5 separate regions of the Homo sapiens genome follow, and regions 1, 3, 4 and 5 are each linked to region 2. The links come from fine-mapping of genetic effects on plasma protein levels. Region 2 holds a variant in brackets. A gene starts in each other region. All regions are shown on their reverse strands.

What was found. A credible set is the group of variants that fine-mapping cannot tell apart. PIP is the posterior inclusion probability: the model's chance that the variant is causal. Protein levels are from antibody-based Olink assays in UK Biobank. Linkage for the fine-mapping came from a reference panel and not from the study's own genotypes, which makes the PIPs less certain.
Region 1: CXCL13 starts here. The variant in region 2 is the best candidate, but not a certain one, in a credible set for the plasma level of the CXCL13 protein (UK Biobank, PIP 0.60).
Region 3: CD7 starts here. The variant in region 2 is the best candidate, but not a certain one, in a credible set for the plasma level of the CD7 protein (UK Biobank, PIP 0.57).
Region 4: CD6 starts here. The variant in region 2 is the best candidate, but not a certain one, in a credible set for the plasma level of the CD6 protein (UK Biobank, PIP 0.77).
Region 5: CPE starts here. The variant in region 2 is the best candidate, but not a certain one, in a credible set for the plasma level of the CPE protein (UK Biobank, PIP 0.68).

What each region holds. Positions count from the first base shown.
Region 1 is chr4:77,603,928-77,608,042 of GRCh38, reverse strand. It overlaps CXCL13 (C-X-C motif chemokine ligand 13), which reads right to left and starts at 2,223. Exons shown (of 4, transcript NM_001371558.1): 1 at 2,114-2,223; 2 at 208-340. The coding sequence starts at 2,177.
Region 2 is chr12:111,760,640-111,764,757 of GRCh38, reverse strand. No RefSeq gene overlaps it. Among named protein-coding and RNA genes, the nearest start is that of ALDH2, 4.2 kb to the left of the region's middle. RefSeq lists an enhancer at 2,559-3,094. The variant A/G (reference allele first, on the strand shown) is at 2,412.
Region 3 is chr17:82,315,429-82,319,546 of GRCh38, reverse strand. CD7 (CD7 molecule) reads left to right here and starts at 1,939. Exons shown (of 4, transcript NM_006137.7): 1 at 1,939-2,133; 2 at 2,566-2,880; 3 at 3,138-3,352; 4 at 4,116-4,118. The coding sequence starts at 2,052.
Region 4 is chr11:60,968,838-60,972,947 of GRCh38, reverse strand. It overlaps CD6 (CD6 molecule), which reads right to left and starts at 1,268. Exons shown (of 13, transcript NM_006725.5): 1 at 1,034-1,268. The coding sequence starts at 1,082.
Region 5 is chr4:165,376,976-165,381,093 of GRCh38, reverse strand. CPE (carboxypeptidase E) reads right to left here and starts at 2,086. Exons shown (of 9, transcript NM_001873.4): 1 at 1,566-2,086. The coding sequence starts at 1,872. RefSeq lists an enhancer at 1-314 and a silencer at 1,794-2,053.

The DNA of each region.
Region 1 (4,115 bases), not on the chromosome of region 2:
AATGAGTATGTGCATGTAAAGCACTTAGCTCAGGGCTGCTGCAAACTAAGCTCTTAATTATTAACAATTTTCATTATTAGTTTGAGAATTTTTAGCAACACTCAAGTAAATCTCTTCGACATTCTTGAGTAAGACTACTGTATGGTAACATTTGATCTGATTTCATTGGGAGAAGGAAATCTTATTTATTTTTCTCTTGAAACTTACATGATTTCTTTTCTTGGACAACCATTCCCACGGGGCAAGATTTGAATTCGATCAATGAAGCGTCTAGGGATAAAGACTGAGCTCTCTTGGACACATCTACACCTCAAGCTTGTGTAATAGACCTCCAGAACACCTGTAAGTAAACACAGAATCAGTTATTTTAATCCATTGGCATGTAATTCATAACTAGAATTTAATTACTAATCTTTCATAACGTGCATTTGAAGACTTAAAAGTTTCAAGTCAGTGCTTCCACCCATATGTCTTTAGTTTGTATATTTCTGCTTGTCTTGGCTTGAGTATTTTCAAATGTTTTCTACCAAAACTTTAAAAATAAAGTTAGCTTTTAGGCCAGGCACAGTGGCTTACACCTGTAATCCCAGCACTTTGGAAGGCCAAGGTGGGAGGATTGGTTGAACCCAGGAGTTTGAGACCAGCCTGGGCAACAAACGGAGACCCCATCTCAGAAAGCAAACAAACAAAGCAAAAAGAAAACAAAACAAAAATTAGCTTTCAAAAAAACACAGCAATTTTGAAATTTGTGATAGTGTTATATTTGTACTCAGGTGATAGTCCACATAATAAAATTTGAGAACAGCCTCTGTAGGGACTTACAACTCAGTTATAATTAATGCAATATAAAACCAGTGGATTATCTTCACTCCCAACACATAAAAACCGAGGACATGACCTGGCTCAAGAGTCCTGGGAGCAATAACATGCTGGAACAGAGTTTTCTCTATCAGACTCTCTGCCATCCTCCCCTTTCCTCTCAGAAAATGTCACAGACGTTTTTGTTTGATATGTTGGTCCTCTGTCTGGGTTGCAAATCATTACAGAACAAAAGGCAATCATAAAAATTCAAAAGTCTTTTTATTTAACAAAAGCAATTAATACTGGATGGGTACCATTAGTATCCATCTCATGAATTTTAATGGGATCTAATGAAATCTAAGCCAAAGACATTTATCAGATCTTTTCTATCCAGCCTACTACTGTGCTTGACATACATTTATAAATAAAAAGGCTCACCTCTCAAGGTGTGTACAAGTTAGTAGGGGAAACAAGCAAACAAAAACTAAAATACCACAGAAGGTTGTATTACGCTCAAAATCTAACATGCATGCTGAGAACAGAAGATGTACTAAGAGCTACCTCTGCCGGGAGCCATGGGAAAGCCCCGTGGAGAATGCAAGAAATTAGGGTTTTGAAGAGTGAAAATAACATGTGAAGCAAAATTAAAACTGGGGGACAAAGCTCCTCTGTGTTTTAAGAACAAAAATTTGGCCTTCTAAATCTGAGCAGAAGGCTTCTTTCTGCACATATCCATTTCTTCGGCCACATAAAAACTTACTACTTCAACTGGATATTTATCTATTGACACAAAGATAGCTGCCCCACTTAGACATGGAAGTCTGCTTCTTTGCAGAATGTGTGTAAATACCCCTGGTGTACTGACAGTGGTGTACTTGATGTCAGATCTAACCATTTGGAGTTACATGAAGCATGTTCACTGCAAGAGACCAGTAGAGTTCAATAATCTTTAAACCCTGTATAGGGTTTGGTCAGAGTGGGTAACATTGAGAGGCAGAACAAAGAAGAGCTACATGTAAAGAATTATATATAGCAGGAGCTGAATCAGAAAAAGGCTGGGAATATATAATTCACATGAATATTGGACTTGTGGTATCTCTTTTTGCTATAAATAAAAATCTTAACAATATAAATACTTCCAGTTTTGAAGAGTTAAATTCCTAAACACCTTACTTTGAGAAATCTAGAAGGAACAGAGCAGTTTTTTCCCCCTTTAGTCAGACTTCCCTGCGGTTTTTAATCGAAAGAAAATTGAAGTGGTTAAAGACTATTTCTGTTCAACAAACAGTGAAATGTAAATGAAATTTCTCACCTTGGACTGGAGAGAGGCTGCTGACCAGCAGCATGAGAAGCAGAGATGTCGAGATGAACTTCATTCTGTCTGGAGGTAGAGTTCAGACTTGAGCTCTGAGTCCAGGCTGTGGGTTTGCAGTACCAGAGACTCCTATTTATTTATACCAGTAAGGGCCCTCCCACTGCCTTTGTCTCCAGTAGGTCAGCTGCATCATCAGCTTTAAAAGCCCCCAAATATTGCTGAGCTTGCTTTTTTAAAACTTCTCTTGCAAACTTTATAAATTTGTTTCAGAGCACTATAATAAAATATTTCTTGCAAACATGGACTATAAGTGCCAGAGACACTGGAGAAATCTGAGGGTGGGGAGAAAGGATAATCTATCAGCTTGGAAGCTCCAAAGCACTGTCTTTAGTAGCGCTATTGGTGATGGTGGTTTTGAGTGCTTCTCTCAGTGCAGGGTGAGCCAGGTTTCTCAGTGGCATTAGATATATACTCCATGACATTGGGGACTCCGTCGAGCGCATCACGTCCCTAGCATGTGGAAGGGATTCCGGCCTTTGGTAGGTGCTCAGTAAATATTTGCACAGCAAATGAATGTCTCTTTATATACAGATCCTAACGCTGATTATGCTATTGATTTTCCTACCAGTCTTTTCCATCTCTTATTTTGCTATCTGAAATATATGATTACTTATATAATCTGACCATCATGGAATTCTTAGAAGGGGGCAGTAGGAGTCCCCTGCTTTGTGTGCCTGTGTCTGCATGAAGGGAGGGAGACAACAGCCTTGAGGAAGAGAATCTCTCTGGCTGTCGTGTGCAAGTCCATGAGCTTGAGAACCATGTGGCAGGGGAGGGAGTCATTAGAACTGCATTAGAGGGTGAACCCCATATTACAGTCTGACATAAACATATGTGAAGTTAGGTTTTGATCCCACCAACTAGTCCATGGGGACAATCAGCCCACAGCTTATCCCATTTTCTAGAAGCTCTTTGATTAAAAAAAAAGTATGTAGACTGGCTAGTCTGGCCTAGAGTACCACTAAACTGCCCTGGAAGTGGACAAGGATGATGTATCAAACCAGACCCACTGATCTGCTAAGAAATCAGAGGTTTGGGCTTCCTGGCGCGATTTCCTAAACAATTTGGTTTTTGCTAATCAATTAGCATTGTGGATGTTTAGCATCCCAGGTGCCTCAGTATTCATGGGGGTAGAAGTGGAGGAGTGGTAATGCCACACAACCTTCACACAAAAGCAGTTCTCCAGTCAGCCTGAACGCAGTGACAGGGCACTCATTGATCTTGAGGCAGGTTATTCTATTGTTTGGCACTTCTAGTTGTTACGATGTTCTTCCTTATGTATATGTGAAAGCTGCTTCCCTAGCAGTTTGTTTATGCTTGTGTTGTGATAAGGGGTTGAATTTTGTCCTAATTCAACCCCTTATCACAACACAAAACAATTCTAAACAGTCTTCTATATGATGGCAATCCAAATATATGAAGGCAGGGTGTGCCAGTTGTGTCCTCTGCAAAGCAGATGCTGAGATGGACATTGGAGTAAAAGAAGGTTATTCAGAACAACTCCTGCGATAGACAGAAGGAGGAAGGAGGCTGAATTGGGCAGGGGGAGCCTCAGATTGCAATGCTGATCTGGTGAAGTCTACAACAGCTCAGTGGGGAGCTCCAGAGGAAAGACTGTTTATTAGAGGGGCCCATGGTGGGCAGAAATGTTCAGACTCTTCTACCCCAACCGTGCTCGGTCCTTAGCTGGGCCTCCTCAGAAACAACATGGTCTCTGGTTGAAAGCTGAAGCAGAGCCCGAGGAGGTTATCAGTAGAGGCTGTCAGCTAACTGCACTCCTTGCCGCTGGCCAGCAAGTTATTTCTTTAAGAGAGAGTTGAGTAGGCCACCTTTGAGTGTCACTCAGGGTTATAAACTAGAGGTTAACAGCACAAAGTCTGAGCTCAGCCTGGCAATGACTTTGGACAGGTCACTTAATTTCTCTATGCCTCATATTTAC
Region 2 (4,118 bases):
ATGGAACAAAGAATATTTACAATTTAAATACAGATATATTACCCTCCAAAGAAGTTTAATTTATGCCCCACTACCTGTCATGTCTGAGTTTCCTTACACCCTCACCAGTAGAAGTTTCAGGATTTTTTTTTTAGCTTTGCTAATCTGAGAGACGAAAAAGTGGCATTTCACTACCACATTAATTTGCTTCTCTTTTACGAGTGAGCTTGAGCATCTCTGCCTAGATGAAGTCATGCATGTTTCCTCTGCTATGAACTAGCTGCTCATGTCTCTGGCTCACTTTTCTATTGGATTGTTGGTCTTTCTGAAATTGATTTGTAGGTGCTTTATATGTATCCAGGCAATTAACATTTTGTCTATCATATATGGCACAAATACATCCTGCCAGTCATCTTTTTACTACTAAGTAACTGTAAGTAGCTATTTCTGAACTACTGTATATTCTGTGTCATTGATCTCTGTATGCGTGTGCCAGTATGACACTGTTTTCATCACTGTAGCTTTCTAAGTCTTCTTGTTTTTTTTCCCCAAGACCAGGGTCTCGCTGTCACCCAGGCTGGAGTGCAGTAGCACAATCACAACTCGCTGCAGCCTCGACCTCCCAGGCTCAATTGATCCTCCCACCTCAGCCTCCTGAGTAGTTGTGATTACAGGTGCATGCCACCATGCCTGACTGATATGGTTTCACTGCGTCCCTACCCAAATCTCATCTAGAATTGTAACTCCCACAATTCCCACATGTTATGGGAAGAACCTGGTGGGAGGTGACTGAATTATGGGGGCAGGTCTTTACTGCACTGTTCTTTTGATAGTGAATGAGTCTCACGAGATCTGATGGTTTTAAAAACGGGAGTTTCCCTGCACAAGCTCTTTTTCTGCCTGCGGCCATTTATGTAAGACGTGACTTGCTCCTCCTTGCCTTCTGCCGTGATTGTGAGGCCTCCCCAGCTATGTGGAACTATAAGTCCATTAAACTTCTTTTCTTTTTTTTTTTTTTTGAGACACAGTCTAGCTCTGTCACTCAGGCTGCAGTGCAGTGGTGCTATCTTGGCTCACTGCAAACTCCGCCTCCCAGATTCAAGCGATTCTCCTTCCTCAGCCTTCCAAGTAGCTAGGATTACAGACGTGCCACCACGACTGGCTAATTTTTGTATTTTTTAGTAGAGATGGGGTTTCAACATGTTGGCCAGGCTAGTCTCGAACTCCTGACCTCAGGTGATCCACCTGCCTTGGCCTCCCAAAGTGCTGGGATTACAGGCATGAGCCACCGCACCTGGCCTAAACCTCTTTTGTAAATTGCCCAGTCTCAGGTATGTCTTTATCAGCAGCATGAAAACGGACTAAGGCACCAGCTAATTTTTTTTTTTTTTTTTTGTAGAGATAGGGTCTCTTTATGTTGCCCATGCTGGTCTTGAACTCCTGGGCTCAAGCAGTCAGCCCACCTTGGCCTCCCAAAATGCTGAGACTACAGGCATGTGCCACCATGCCCGGCAGCCTCCTAAGTCTTAATAGCTTGTACTAATATTTCTCTTAACCAAGATCTTTCAGCCTGGAAGTGATGAGGTTGCACATGTGCCTTCGAGGGATTCCTCTGAGAACTGCATGGAAACTCAGTTGTAGTGGGGAGGCAGGCCAGAGGCAGAGAGATGAGGAGGGCTCAGTTGGCAGAAAGAGTGTGAAGGTGGAATTGACAGGTAGCTGTGTGGAGATGAGGGCGAGAGGAGTGGAGTGGGTGCTGAGGTTCTTACCATGTGCTATTCCCCAGGATGGGGGAGCCAGGAGCAGCAGTAAACTTGGTTGTGGGGAGGGGAAGGAGAAAATGAGCTGACTTATCCACATTCGCATACATCGATACAATGTGGGCAACGTGCTTCGTCCCTGTTGGTGTGCGTGGTGTGTGTCTCAGTGCAGGACACGCTGGTCCACAGGTTCGTTTATTCTGGTTTGTCTGTGGTCTGTGGTGCTCACCATAATCCTAACCAGCAGCTCTCTCATCCCTGGTGCCCTACTGTTGGTGCACCTGTTCCACCCATGTCCTGCCCTCTCTCCTTATGGAAATCTTCCCTATCAAGATCCAGCCCAAGTCCCATCTTCTGGGAAGTCTTTTGTGACCATAGTAGCCTTCCTTAGCTGCTTTTTTTTTTTTTTTTTTTTTTTTTGAGACGGAGTCTCTCTCTGTTGCCCAAGCTGCAGTGCAGTGGTACCATCTCAGTTCACTGCAACCTCTGCCTCCTGGGTTCAAGCGATTCTCCTGCCTCAAGCTTCCCAAGTAGCTGGGATTACAGGCATGCACTACCATGCCTGGTTAATGTTTGTATTTTTAGTGGAGACAGGGTTTCACCATATTAGCCAGGCTGGTCTCAAACTCCTGGCCTCAAGTGATCCACCCAAGTCAGCCTCCCAAAATGCTG[A/G]GATTACAGGTGTGAGCCACCACATTTGGCCTCAGCTGCTTTCACACAGTCCTCAACCAAATACTGCAGACCAAGATCACCTGGATGTGCTGAAACGCTATTGTAATTATGGCTCCTTGTGGCTCAGTCTCTCCAAAGAATGAACTAAAACTTAACTCTCAACCTAGATTTCACCCTGACAGTCTGAGGCTTTCCTCTCTTCCACGTTTCTTTCCATCTGTTTCCTGGTTCTTCATCGCCCCTTGTCTGTGGGCTCACTGGCAGGAATGGGGCCGGCAGAAGCACAGGCATTCTCATGGTGCTGAGACCTTCGGTGGAAGCACCTCAAGCCACTTAACTTCCTCTAAGATATTCAAATTCCTAGCTTTCAACTACTCTGAAACCTTTCATTGTTAGGGCACAACTGATGTGCTTTCAGGCTTTAAAAAACCCTAGTTCCACTTGCTCTCCAACAAAGGTTGTGACTGAGGTCTCCTTCAGGGTCACTGACTGGTGAGATTCTAGATGTTTGGTTGTTTAGTCCCCGTTCTGGGACACTGACTCTGTCTATGGAAGCTCTTTGTTGCTGTTGTTGCAAACAATGATGTTAGGTGAGGAATTTAAAGCCCCATTTTAACAGGAAGACATCTGGCTGGGGGCAGTGGCTCAGCCTATAATCCAACACTTTGAGGCCGAGGCGGGCGGATCATCTGAAGTTGGGAGTTCTAGACCAGCCTGACCAACATGGAGAAACCCCATCTCTACTAAAAATACAAAATTAGCCAGGTGTAGTGGTGCATGCCTGTAATCTCAGCTACTTGGGAGGCTGAGGAAGGAGAATCGCTTTAACCCGAGAGGCGGAGGTTGCGGTGAGCTGAGATAATGCCATTGCACTCCAGCCTGGGCAACAAGAGCAAAACTCCGTCTCAAAAGCAAAACAAAACAAAACACAGTAAGACATCTGCCCTCACAGGTAGGAGGAAAAATATGGTCAGCCCTGAGCCCCAGCTCTGCCCTCCTTGTTTGCATATGTACACACACACACATACACACACACACACACACACACACACACAATCTCTCTCTCTCTCGGACACACAGCTGGCTTGACACTCCACAGGCAGCCAGGGCCACAGGGCAGACACCCCCATCATGGAGCCTGACCCCCTAAGAGGCAGTCGGGGGGGCATCCCGGAGATTATTCTGGAAGCATCAGAAGCTCATGCACTTCTTGAGGGCACAGCACGCTCTCCTTGGTGACATGAGCCTCATCATCTTCCTCCTTTCCTAGGTGAGGAGGCCAGTACCTCACAGAGGTGATCTTAACGATCCATGCCATGGAGTAGAAAGAGCTCTGGGATCTTCTGAATTTAGGTTTGAATTCACTGACAAGCTGTGTGATCTTAAGCAAGTTGCACAATTCCTTTGAACCTCTGTCTCCTCATCTCTAGCAGGGGCAGAATAAAAGGATCTGCCAATTGTTATAGGGTTCAAAATAACTGGCCAGGCGCAGTGGCCATGCCTGTAATCCCAGCACTTTAGGAGGCTGAGGTGGGTCAATCACCTGTCAGGAGTTCAAGACAAGCCTGGCCAACATGGTGAAACCGTCTCTACTAAAATTACAAAAATTAGCCAGGTGTGGTGGTGCGTGCCTGTAGTCCCAGCTACTCAGGAAGCTGAGACTGGAAAATCACTTGAACCCGGGAGGCAGAGGCTGCAGTGAGCTGA
Region 3 (4,118 bases), not on the chromosome of region 2:
ATACATGTGTGGAGTCACGCGCACCCGTCTCTGCACACACGCGAGTCACGCACACCCGTCTCTGCACACACACGTGTTCACATGCACCCGTCTCTGCAAACACGTGTGGAGTCACGCACACCCGTCTCTGCACATGCGTGGAGCCATGCGCACCCGTCTCTGCACACACGCGTGTCCACACGCACCCGTCTCTGCACACACATGCGTGGAATCACGCGCACCCGTCTCTGCACACACGCGTGGAGTCATGCGCACCCATCTCTGCACACACACGTGTCCACACGCACCCGTCTCTGCACATGCGTGTCCACACACATCCATCTCTGCACACACGCGTGTCCACATGCACCCGTCTCTGCACACATGCATGGAGTCACGCGCACCCGTCTCTGCACACACAAGTGTCCACACACCCGTCTCTGCACACGCACGTCCACACGCACACGTCTCTACACACGCACGTGTCCACACGCACCCGTCTCTGCACACCCGCGTGTCCACACGCACCCGTCTCTGCACACACGCATGGAGTCACGCGCACCCGTCTCTGCACAAAGTGTCCACACACACCCGTCTCTGCACATGCGTGTCCACACACACCCGTCTCTGCACACACGCGTGTCCACACACATCCGTCTCTGCACACACGCGTGGAGTCATGCGCACCCATCTGCACACACACGTGTTCACACGCACCCGTCTCTGCACATGCGTGTCCACACACACCCGTCTCTGCACACACGCGTGTCCACACGCACCCGTCTCTGCACACACGCATGGAGTCAAGTGCACCCGTCTCTGCACACACGTGTCCACACACACCCGTCTCTGCACACGCACATCCACACGCACACGTCTCTGCACACGCACGTGTCCACACGCACCCATCTCTGCACATGCGTGTCCACACACACCCGTCTCTGCACACACGTGTCCACACGCACCCGTCTCTGCACACACGCATGGAGTCACACGCACCCGTCTCTGCACACACAAGTGTCCACACACAGCCGTCTCTGTACACGCACGTCCACACGCACACGTCTCTGCACACACACGTCCACACGCACCCGCCTCTGCACACGCACGTGTCCACACGCATCCGTCTCTGCACACACACGTGTCCACACGCACCCGTCTCTGCACACACACGTGTCCACACGCACCCGTCTCTGCACACACATGTCCATACGCACCCGTCTCTGCACACACACGTGTCCACACACTCCTGCTCATGTGCTGCACCTACTGGCTTTGGGCACCAACGTCAACGCTTCGTCATTGTGGCGGGAGGCCCTCAGGACAGAGAAGTGCCCCCTCCCAGAGGACTCAGTCACCCTGGGGTCAGAGCCCAGGCACAGGTCTCCCTCAGCCCCTGAAGCTGGGCACTGCGGCCTGACGCACTCCTCCCAGGGAGGTCGGGAAACCTCAGGCCTGGACCATACCTCAGACCTCCCGCCTCCAGGACATGGAACGCAGAGCCACGGTCAGCTGGTCGGCTGCAGCGTTGGGTGCGGGTGCAGGCCCAGGCTCCTTCCCCACGGCCAAACCAGGGGGTGCCAATTCTGGCCTGCCCTGTGCTCCTCTGCACTGTGTGGGTGACTCATGGGTCATGGGTGGCTCCAGATTTCTGGGCATAAATTGGGTCCCAGCAGAAAGTACCCCAGAGGACCAGGCAGGCTGGGGGCCAGCTCTGCCGCTCACTTCCAGACCCTGCCACCCGTCCCCAGCCAGGGAGTCCCTTCTCTGTCCTCTGGTCTGCCCCGCCCCAGGCCTTGACCTCCTCCCTGTGGAGATGCAGGGGCAGTGGGGGATACAGGGACGCCCTGCTCTCAGGGCAGCTCTCAGGGAGGCAGTGCTGGGGAGGGGTAGGTGAGACCGCCCCTCCCACCGGGCCCACAGCACCACCCTGGTCTGAGGCACCGCCTCCAGGAAGCCCTCTCTGAGCTCTGAGCGCCTGCGGTCTCCTGTGTGCTGCTCTCTGTGGGGTCCTGTAGACCCAGAGAGGCTCAGCTGCACTCGCCCGGCTGGGAGAGCTGGGTGTGGGGAACATGGCCGGGCCTCCGAGGCTCCTGCTGCTGCCCCTGCTTCTGGCGCTGGCTCGCGGCCTGCCTGGGGCCCTGGCTGCCCAAGGTAAGAGCTTCCCAGGCTCTCCATGGCCACAGCTCCAGAGCTCTCCCTGCCCCATGAGCTCAGAGCCCCCAGTCTGAGCCACAGCACAGCCCCCAGGAAGCGGGTGGGGTGCTGAGCGGCCTCCAGTGTCTGAGGACTCATTTAAGAGAAGGAAAAAGGGTGGACCCCGGTGGGGAGTGGCCGGGGCTGTCCAGGCAGGGCCGCTGCTTTGGGAGGAAGAAGCCCACAGTCTCGGAACACGAGGACAGCACCTCCCCCAACACCACAGCCGGTGCCCAGATCTGCTCCATGCCCCGTAAGGCACCGTGTCTTTGGCGACATGTCAGCCCTGGGCTGTCTCAGGGCCCCACCATCCCCACCACTGTCCCCTGCAGGGAGGACATTCTCTGTCCTTCTGGCCAGACTGATGGTGACAGCCCAGGTCCTCCCCAGAGGTGCAGCAGTCTCCCCACTGCACGACTGTCCCCGTGGGAGCCTCCGTCAACATCACCTGCTCCACCAGCGGGGGCCTGCGTGGGATCTACCTGAGGCAGCTCGGGCCACAGCCCCAAGACATCATTTACTACGAGGACGGGGTGGTGCCCACTACGGACAGACGGTTCCGGGGCCGCATCGACTTCTCAGGGTCCCAGGACAACCTGACTATCACCATGCACCGCCTGCAGCTGTCGGACACTGGCACCTACACCTGCCAGGCCATCACGGAGGTCAATGTCTACGGCTCCGGCACCCTGGTCCTGGTGACAGGTAGGGAATGTGCCCATCCCAGACCCCCCTCCCAACCCCAGCTGCTGGCCAGGCTCTGCTCCCCCAGCCCTTGTCGTGGGACCCTCCCTCCTACATGTGCCTGAACTGTTCCAGCTCCCAGCCCACTGCCCCCAGCAGCCTCCTAGATAGCTGCCCCTCCTCCCCTCCACAGCCTTTCCCTGCCCCGAATCCCAAACCCCGGGGGCTCTAACAGGTTCTCCACCGGGAGAATCCCTTCCTTCTTTTTTCCTTCTCAGAGGAACAGTCCCAAGGATGGCACAGATGCTCGGACGCCCCACCAAGGGCCTCTGCCCTCCCTGCCCCACCGACAGGCTCCGCCCTCCCTGACCCGCAGACAGCCTCTGCCCTCCCTGACCCGCCAGCAGCCTCTGCCCTCCCTGCGGCCCTGGCGGTGATCTCCTTCCTCCTCGGGCTGGGCCTGGGGGTGGCGTGTGTGCTGGCGAGGACACAGGTCAGTGTGAGCCCCAGCTGCCACCTGCACCCCAAAGATTGTTCCCTCTCCTGAGAGCAGCGTGGGGGGCGCCAAAGCCCCAGAGGAAAACCCTGGTACCCGCCGCCTCCTCTGCAGGCTCTGGAACTCTCAGGGTGGAAGTGGCCTCGGCGGGGAGGGAGGGGGACCAGCACCAAAGCGACCTGAGGGGGAGGGAGCAGCCCAGGCGCTGGGCCCGCGTGTGCGCGTGTGCGCGTGTGCAGGTGTGAGTGTCTGAGGGGGGATCTCTGAGGTCTGTGCGTGCAGGTTGGAGTGTGCGGGCAGAGGAGGGAGCGCCCAGGCGCTGGGCCCGCGTGTGCACGTGTGCAGGTGTGAGCCTGTGTGTGGGGATCTCTGAGGACTGTGCGTGCATGTTGGAGTGTGCCGGCGTGCTGTGTGGCCGTGGGAAGGGGAGGGGGCCTCAGACAGACACAGAGTCTAGGCGTGGCCACTCCCCTCGGTCCCTGCTGTTTGTCTGGGGCTGGAGTGGGGGTCCCGCTTGGCTTGGGCTTGGTGGGGGGGTCCAAGCCACTTCCACTCTCCTTCTTCAGAGGCACCCCAGGGTCCGACCCAGCCCTGCCTGGGGAAGGCTCTGCTGGGAAGCCCTGGGGCTCAGGAGACCTGGGGGCCAGCCCAGAGGAGCCCCGTGGGGGTCTCGTGTTAAAATTAGAAAGCTGACCGGAGTGGGGTGGGGTCCAGGACACCACGCTGGCCACTGGTTGGAGACGGCGGTTCTGTCTTTCAGATA
Region 4 (4,110 bases), not on the chromosome of region 2:
AAACTCCAGTTCCCAGAGCCGAATGGCTTTCCCTGAACCAGTATGAGGCCACAGGCTCGGAACACATGCCTGGAGATCAAGGCAGAGAGGAGAGCACTCCCTGCCCAGAGTCTCGCGACATGTACCCAGTCCTCCAAACCAGCTCGATGCCCCCTCCTGACTGGGTCTTCCTGGGTCTCCTCCATCACAAAATGAAAGCACTTGGCTCTCTGGCTGCAAGGTGGACCCAGACTCCCCTGGCCCGAATTCTGTTTCCATACCAGTCTTCCCAAATCCCAAAATGTGAGAGCTCGATGGGGTCAGGATCTCTTGCATCTCCAGGCCCCTGCCCCGCTCTGGCCAGCTTGGACCCTGCACTCAACAGGGGCCAGCAAGTATCTGGGGAGCACAGTCTAGTGCCCCAAACCTTCTGGCCATCTGATTCCCTGGCCCAGGTGGCCAGGTGCCTTGACACTTGGGGGCAGCTTGAGACGTGGGGGTGGCCTTCATGCTCGCTTATGCCCTAGACTACCCCAGCTGGTTGTGCTGAGGCCATCAGCGCCTGGTTGTCCAGAACTCTCCCTGGCTTCCCTGAGTCCTGTTTCGGGAGGTGCTCTCCTGTGATTGGCCTACGCCTGCTGGACCCCAAGCCTCAGCTTTGGCGTTGAAAGTACCACCATCAGTGGTCCTGCCTCTCTGGAAGGTGAACGGTTCCTTCTTAAGAGTTGGCAAGAAATAGGAAATGGGGGAGTTCCTGAGCTTAAGGATGGGAGAGGCACCTCCCTCCTCACACCCTAGGGACCCATTGGTAAGGCACAAAGCATGCTTCCCACATTCTGTCACTCCAGGAGGCTTCCAGGCACAGCCCCAGCCCCTCGAGGGGCTCCTGTGTCCTCTCCTAGCCCCAGATGCTGGACCTCCCTGGTACCTGAGTGTAGTCTTGGCTAAAAGATCCTAGAAAAGTGACCACAAGGAAACAACCAGAAAGGGGACTGAGAGGGCCGGACCCGGCTCCTCCAGCACCAGTGGCAGGAGATGAGGGAAGGGGGCCTACCTGAGAGGGCTGCCGTCAGCAATCCAGTGATCCCGAAGAAGAGCCACATGTCTGGAGCTGTCTCTGGCTGCTACGCGTGGCTGCCTGTGGGAAGCACCATCTTGGGGCCGGGAGGTGGACACGGCCGTTGTGCGCCCCTGGCGCAGGTCTGCTCTACCCTTTGCTGTTCTTGTTCCTGTGTCTCTCTCTGCTCTCTCCTCTCCGACACGCATGCGATCAAACCCAACCTGTGAGTGTCTCACGCCTGCTTGTTCTGCTTGTGGTTTTGGTCTGCAGGAAGCTGGGCTGCTGTTACAGGGGCTGGTGGGGAGAGCCCCAGCTGCCTGTGCTGGGAGCCCACCCATCCAGGCTGCACCCCAAGAGTCACGGAGCCAGACACACGCATGCACACGCATCCATGCAGACACACTTCCCCGAGGGTCTTCTAAGAAGAAGGGAAGTGGAAGAGCCATGCCTCATTTCTGGTGGCCCAGAAGAAAAAATTGATAATGTAGTAGCTGCTCAATCAGTACATATTGGAAGAGGGAGTGAATGACCCATTGCCTGTCCCGGTCCGTGTAATTTGGCTCTCTTGGATTAAATCCTGAGTTTTATCTTAACCTTAGGTGCAATGGTGGTTGGGAAGGAGGGTGTGGTCTTGATGCACTTTTGGAGATAAGAGCCTAAGTCTCCCCTCAGAGAAATATAAATTGGGAAGGGCCTGAGAGATGGCCATCCCACAAGTCCTTCTACAGGGAAGGGTGCCAAGGCCTTGTGGGAGCCGCCCCGTCAGATGGCACAGTGGGGCCAGCTATCCCATCTCCAGGTACCAGACTGGGCATGCCTCCGTGGGAGTCAGGCATGGGAGCTGGGTCTACAAGGCTGAGCAGGATTTTGACAAACAGCAATCATGGGAGGCCTCTGGGCCAGAAGGAATAGCAGGAGCAAAGGGCTGAAGGAAGGAAGCCCAGGGCTGCCTGAGAAACCCCGAGTTGCCCCATTGCACTGCAGCAGACTGACGCTATAGGAAGAAGGCAGGGGCCAAGCGTGTTTAATTCCCATGGTACTCCCTGTGGAGCATATGGTAGGAGGTGAATAAATGTTTATTGAATGAGAAAAGGAATAGATAATTTGGTTGTCCAAGCAGGGCCCTGGAAGTGGTCAAATCCAGAAGGGGTTTGGTTCCAAATCCTGGCCCTGCCTCAATTGGTCCCATCCCAGGTCCACCTCTCCTGGCCCTCCACTTCCTGCATCCTTGCTTGTCTTCATTTCCCCAACATGTGGAATGAGGAGCGGTCCTCCTCCATTGGGTTCGGTCCTAAATGTGGGTGTATGCATTTGATGCGGCAAGTATTAGAGCCACGGGGAACCAGGCGCCCCCAGAGTGAGACTCCTCCCAGTCCTGCCCCAGCGCCGGCACCTGCTGCCGCTGCCCTCTGGTGGAAGTCACTGGCAGCACAGGTTTGCATGGGTGCCTCGAGCTCCCAGATGCAATTCCATTCATTTACACAGTCTTGGTGTGCAGAACTCTGGACAGGACTCTGTGGAAGTGAAAGAGAGGAAACCATATTCCTGCCCTCAAGGAGGATGAAGTTCACACACACACAAGTGACCAAACCACAGGCCAAGGTAGGACACACATAATGTGAGGTCTCCTGGTCCTAAGAGGAACCCGTTTGAAATGGGCCGGGAAGGATGGCTAGACTCCATTTCTGACAATATGGTAGACAGCAGATGCTGAAGAATTCTCCTAATACAAAACACCACAAAAATATTGTAAACCATCTTTTAAAATGTGTAGCTGAGGTGGTGAGAAATGAAGAAAATCATCAGAGATCAAAAACGACAATAAGCCTGGGCAACATGGTGAAACCCTCTCTCTGCAAAAGGTGCAAAAAATTAGCCAGGTTTGGTGGCACACACCTGCGGTCTCAGCTACTCAGGAGGCTGAGGTGGGAGGATCGCTTGAGCCCAGGAGGTCAAGGCTTTAATAAGCCAAGATTGCACTGCTGTACTCCAGCCTGGGCAACAGAGTGAGACCTTGTATATGTTAATATATAAAGACAACAAAAATCCAAAGAGATCACAGCCAGCAGAGAAGTATCTGTTGATCCAGTTGACCAAGAGCTTCAGTCTTATGAACATGGACAAAAGTTAAAGCTGAGAAACAAAATCGAAGTGAAAAACAAAATCCAAAATTTCTGCCTTAAACAAAGAGCACTGAAATACAACATCCACAGTGGAGAACTCGGAGAGAAAAATTCCTTAAAGCGAGCTGACACAGAGCTTGCCCAACTCAGTATGGACTCTGAGTGGGAGAAAAATAAATGTCAACCCTGAATGCCCCTCACCACAAGTCTACCCACTAATAGGCCTGGAGGTGAAACTCATGGTGACTTTGTGGCAAAAACAACCACACAAAAAACAAACAAACAAAAAGATAAGATAAGAATTTAAAGTAAGGTAAATAATAGCTCCTTAGGCACGTGGCAGAAACAAATGATAAAAATTGTCTCTGGAGTAACTCATCCTATATTCATGACTCAAAGAAATCCCACAGAAAAACTCCCATGGAACATGAGTTCACATGTTTGTAAAACAGAAAAATCATAAAACACAGGACACAAGGTGCTTTAGGTGAGAGGAGCACCAAGCAATAAACTAAAAATGCAGACCTTCGAACACATCTCAGATGTTGGAATTGCAGTATATATAATATAAAATAAGGATGTTTCATATGCTTCAAGAATTAAAAGTTGGTAATTGAAAGTATAGATAAGGAACAAGAGACTATTTAAAGTGACCAGGAAGATTGAGGGAAAAAAAGCAAGCAGTTATGTAAAAACATAATTTTTGAAAATAGAAGCCCAGTGTACAGATTAAACAGTAGATTAAGGCTCAGCACTTTGGGAAGCTAAGGCAGTCTGATGGCTTGAGGCCAGGAGTTCAAGACTAGCCTGGCTAACACAGTGAAACCCTGTCTCTATTAAAAATACAAAAATTAGCCAGGTGAGGTGGCACATGCCTGTAGTCCCAGCTACTCAGGAGGCTGTAGCACAAGAATTGCTTGAACCCAGGAGGCAGAGATTGCAGTGAGT
Region 5 (4,118 bases), not on the chromosome of region 2:
AAAAAACTCTGGGATCAATCTACAAAATAGAGTAACAAAGGGTTCTCATTAAGTAAGCAGCAGGAGACTCACAAATACTTACATTAGCTTTAACTGTGCCTAGGATATCTTGGCTTTGGTTATTGGATTTAGCTGAAAATCAGTTATCACATTTTAAATTTTTCCCTGTCTTCAGATAACAGTATGAAACTAAGTTTCAAAATGTCCAATCCTACATGCTGAATCCTGGTAGATAAGAGTAGTTAATATTAAATGTTTTCTAGGATCTGATCTTAGAATTTTGACAGCAAACTTACATGAACCTTTTTTTCTTATATTATTTGAAGGTAAGAAATATTTCCTGAAGATTTATTCTTGATCAACCCACCTACTATATATTTGAAGATCAAAATGTCTATTGATCACTTATTTTAATCTCTTCTCAGTTTGGTTCTTACGTATCATTATAAAACTATACTGGCCCTGCACTGAGAATTTTTAGCCTACTTTTCTTGCTTGCTTTGTCATTAAACAAAAATTAAGCATCCATCCCATGCTGATATTATTAGCACAGATTACTTTAGCTGTACCTTGATTATCAGAAGACCAGGCCCAAATTATTTCCTAAGCAGAAACATAACGAAAAAAGTCCCAAGAACATTTTTAAATACCTCTTTATTAATACTAAATGCATCACAATTAACATAAACCAAAAGGTGCTTTAATATACTCCTAGGAAAGACGAATACAGATGGTTATTTGGGAACATCAGTTGGAATAAAGACCCCATCACAAACTATTCATCTCAAATGGTTATAGCAGAGAAAATGGAATACTCCTTTTTCCTTGGAAAGGCCTTGTGCAGTTTCAAAATCTGGTTTCAAAAGTCAGAAACCACTTTTCACCCTGGTAGGAGGAGGGGCACCAACGTATCTTTATACACCACCACCCCAGATTGGCAATATCCCTAAGATTCCCCAAGCATCCACAGCAGCGAGTGTACCTAATACGTATACACACACAGGTAGAGATGGGTACACAGAGCCAATAAACTGGTCCTCTGGAAATTAGAGAAAACATGATAAATGACTCTTTCTCCCTCGTTCTCCTTTCCTCTCAATCACTGCCTTCTGCACCTTATCTTTCTACTCTTGTCAGCAAGGAAGACCAACCCCCCTTGCGGGGGACTCGCAATCATTCCTTTGGGTTTTTCACACAGCAAAGTGAGAGCGACCGCTGGGGTTGCGTGCGTCAGGATTTGTTTTTTCTGTATTGCTATCCCCCCCATCCCCCGCCACCCCAGCCTCCCAAGCCTATACTTACTAGAGGGTGGCCTAAGGTCTGGGGAGATGGGATTGGTGCTGGGGGGATGGGACGGGAAAGCAGAAATTGGGCCACTGGCGCTCTAAGTCGGGTTCTTCCCCATTTCCATCCCTCCCTCCACTTCCCACCTTCCACCTTAGATACCTTTTACCAAGAGGCACCCCTGGGCCCATCCCTCCCTCCTTCCCCCACCGCCACCAGTCCCACCCTCTGCCGCCCCCCTCCGGGATGCCCCCAGGGCTGTCAGGGGGCAGCGCCCTTACCAGGCTCATGGACGCCAGGGTTGTCGGACAGCTCGATGACCAGGAGCTCCCGGCCCTCGAAGCTGCGCCCCACCGTGTAAATCCTGCTGATGGCGGTGCACTGCAGCCACACGGACACGAGCGCCTCGCGCAGCTCGGGGTAGCGGTGGTACTCGAAGGAGATGCCGTCCTCTTGCTGCAGCCGCCGGCGCCGCCTCATGCCCGCCGCGGGCGCCCCGGGCTCCTGGGCTTCGGCGCCCAGGAGCCACCCGCAGGCAGCCAGTGCCCCGCACAGAGCCAGCAGCGCGCTGCCCCCTCGCCCGGCCATCGCTGCGCTCCGCCGCCGCCGGCCGTGCCTTCCTACGCGGGCGGCCTCTTTTGTCTGCCCGGCCCTGGGCTTAGCCCGCCGGCGCTGCTGGGGGCGGCAAGTTCCGCACCAGCCTCTACTCGCCTCACCTTCCCCGGCTGAATGAGTGTCAGCCCGCGCACTGGGGCCACCCAGAGGAGACGGGCAAAGCCGCGGCTCCACGGGCTGCACTACTGGCCGCGGAGCCCAGGGGAGCTGCAGGAGAAACCACTGCGAGGAGGGGGCCGGCGGAGAGACGGGCCGGCGTGGATCTGGGAGGGCTGCTGGCGTTATTTGCTGGCTCGGAACCACGTCAACAGCCAAATGGCGTCCGGGACGACGCAGGTGAAATGACAGCTAAGGTCCGGGGTTCGGGAACGTTACTGTCATTGAGACACCCATGACCCACCCACGTCACTGCGTATGGAAAAAATATTCTTGTATTGTTAGTGGAGCCTTTTAAAGGGACATCTATTCCAAGCCTACCAGTTTCCATCTTGATCCACCAAGAATTAGAGAATATTCCAGAAAAAAGGAAGTACTGGCAGCCACTTGCCATCTCCTGATGCGTCTTTCATAATTGTATCAAGAGTCAAAACACAAACCCAAGGGTTGGGTTTTCATTTATTAGAAGGTCTTGCTGGAAATCAGAACATTAAGTGCTTTGATTTAGAGGTTTAAGAGAATAGAAATGCTTTCTTCCAATTTGTAGATACTGTCCTTAATTGTATTTATGCACATTCCTAGATTCTTCCAGAAAACAAACAGACAAAATAAATAAGGCAATGTCATATGGCTGTGCCTGCACCAGCCCTCCTCTTTAATACTATGGGGAAAATAAGTACAACTCTGCTGATGCTTTAGACAAAGGATTTAGTTTGGCATTAAGATTAAATCCTGTTAAGAAAACTCTGATGATGACATGACACCTCCGTTCCTTTTGCAAAGCTATTGTAAAAATAAAAAATCATTTACAGCTTTAAATATCCACCCCTTAGTCGGGATTTATATTCCTGGAGCAATGTCTGGAGCAGATGTTACTCTAAAGAGGCTGCTGTTTGGATTCAGGGACAGCACAAATCTAAATTAATAAATAATCCATTGGGTATTGCAACCGAGCAGGAAAAGTGGACACCATGCGGGTAATTTTCCATGTTAAGCTTCTTTGTTTTTCTAAACTTGTTCATTCTTCACCTGTTTAACAATGCATTGCACATAATAAAAACTTTTACGTGGAAAAGGAGTTAGATATTTAAGTCATCTTATTGGATCAATAAATAAAAGCACAGACATGGTTGGTAAGGTGCTGCTGGAGGGGCTGGCTTTAAACACCCCTATGTACATATACTACAGCAGCATGGATCTTCTTTTTTTTTTTTTTTTTTTTTTTGCGTTTTCGGGGAGAAACTGTCACTGTAAACACATGGCACTCAAGTTGAATTGATGTGGATCCAGCCATTTTTTTTTTTGTCAATGTAGGCAGAGCTAAAAATTGTATATTTTCCACTATGACCAGTCTGTGCTTGATTACATGGTCCAGAAGTTTGAAATCAAACTTATAATTATATTTCTAAAACCATGCCCAAAACAGCAACCTTGGAAGCCTAGAAAAAAAAATTGAGTAGCTAAAACCAAATAACTTCAGAAGTAGGAGGTTAAGATTTTCATGTTAGCAATTTAGAGTAACCACACTAATTTGTGGCTAGGTGGGGCATACTGACTAGTAACTACACACATAAACAACATATTTTTCATTGAAGTCCTGTGTTGTTCCTTAGCTGTCTCTTTGAACAAAGGATATGCGTTCTATTTTCTCCAAAATAAAAAATTTTGGAATGAAAACTTGGTCTTTGAATTTCTGGGCTATTTTTAGGTGTAGGTCAGCTGTACCAACTTTACTGGCATATGTATTACTTGTTTGTGGCTTCATAGGCAATTATACAAAAGATTATATATCCACCCTGATTGCTGGATTTAAAAAATTTTATTTTGGAGAAAAAAAAATTGTAATGTGTAAAATCATGCCTACTATGTGGTCTCACTTGTTGGGCAGGGGGTTCTCTTTTACAGCTTAGTTGTTTGTTTCCCTAATCTATAAAATAAAAGGTTTGGATTTTTCACTCTCTAACGTTTGCTTGCAACAGAATCATGTAGAGAGTTTATAGAATGTGCAGATTCTTAAGCCCCTATGAATTCATCAGGTCTGGGGTGGGTTTCAGGTATTAACA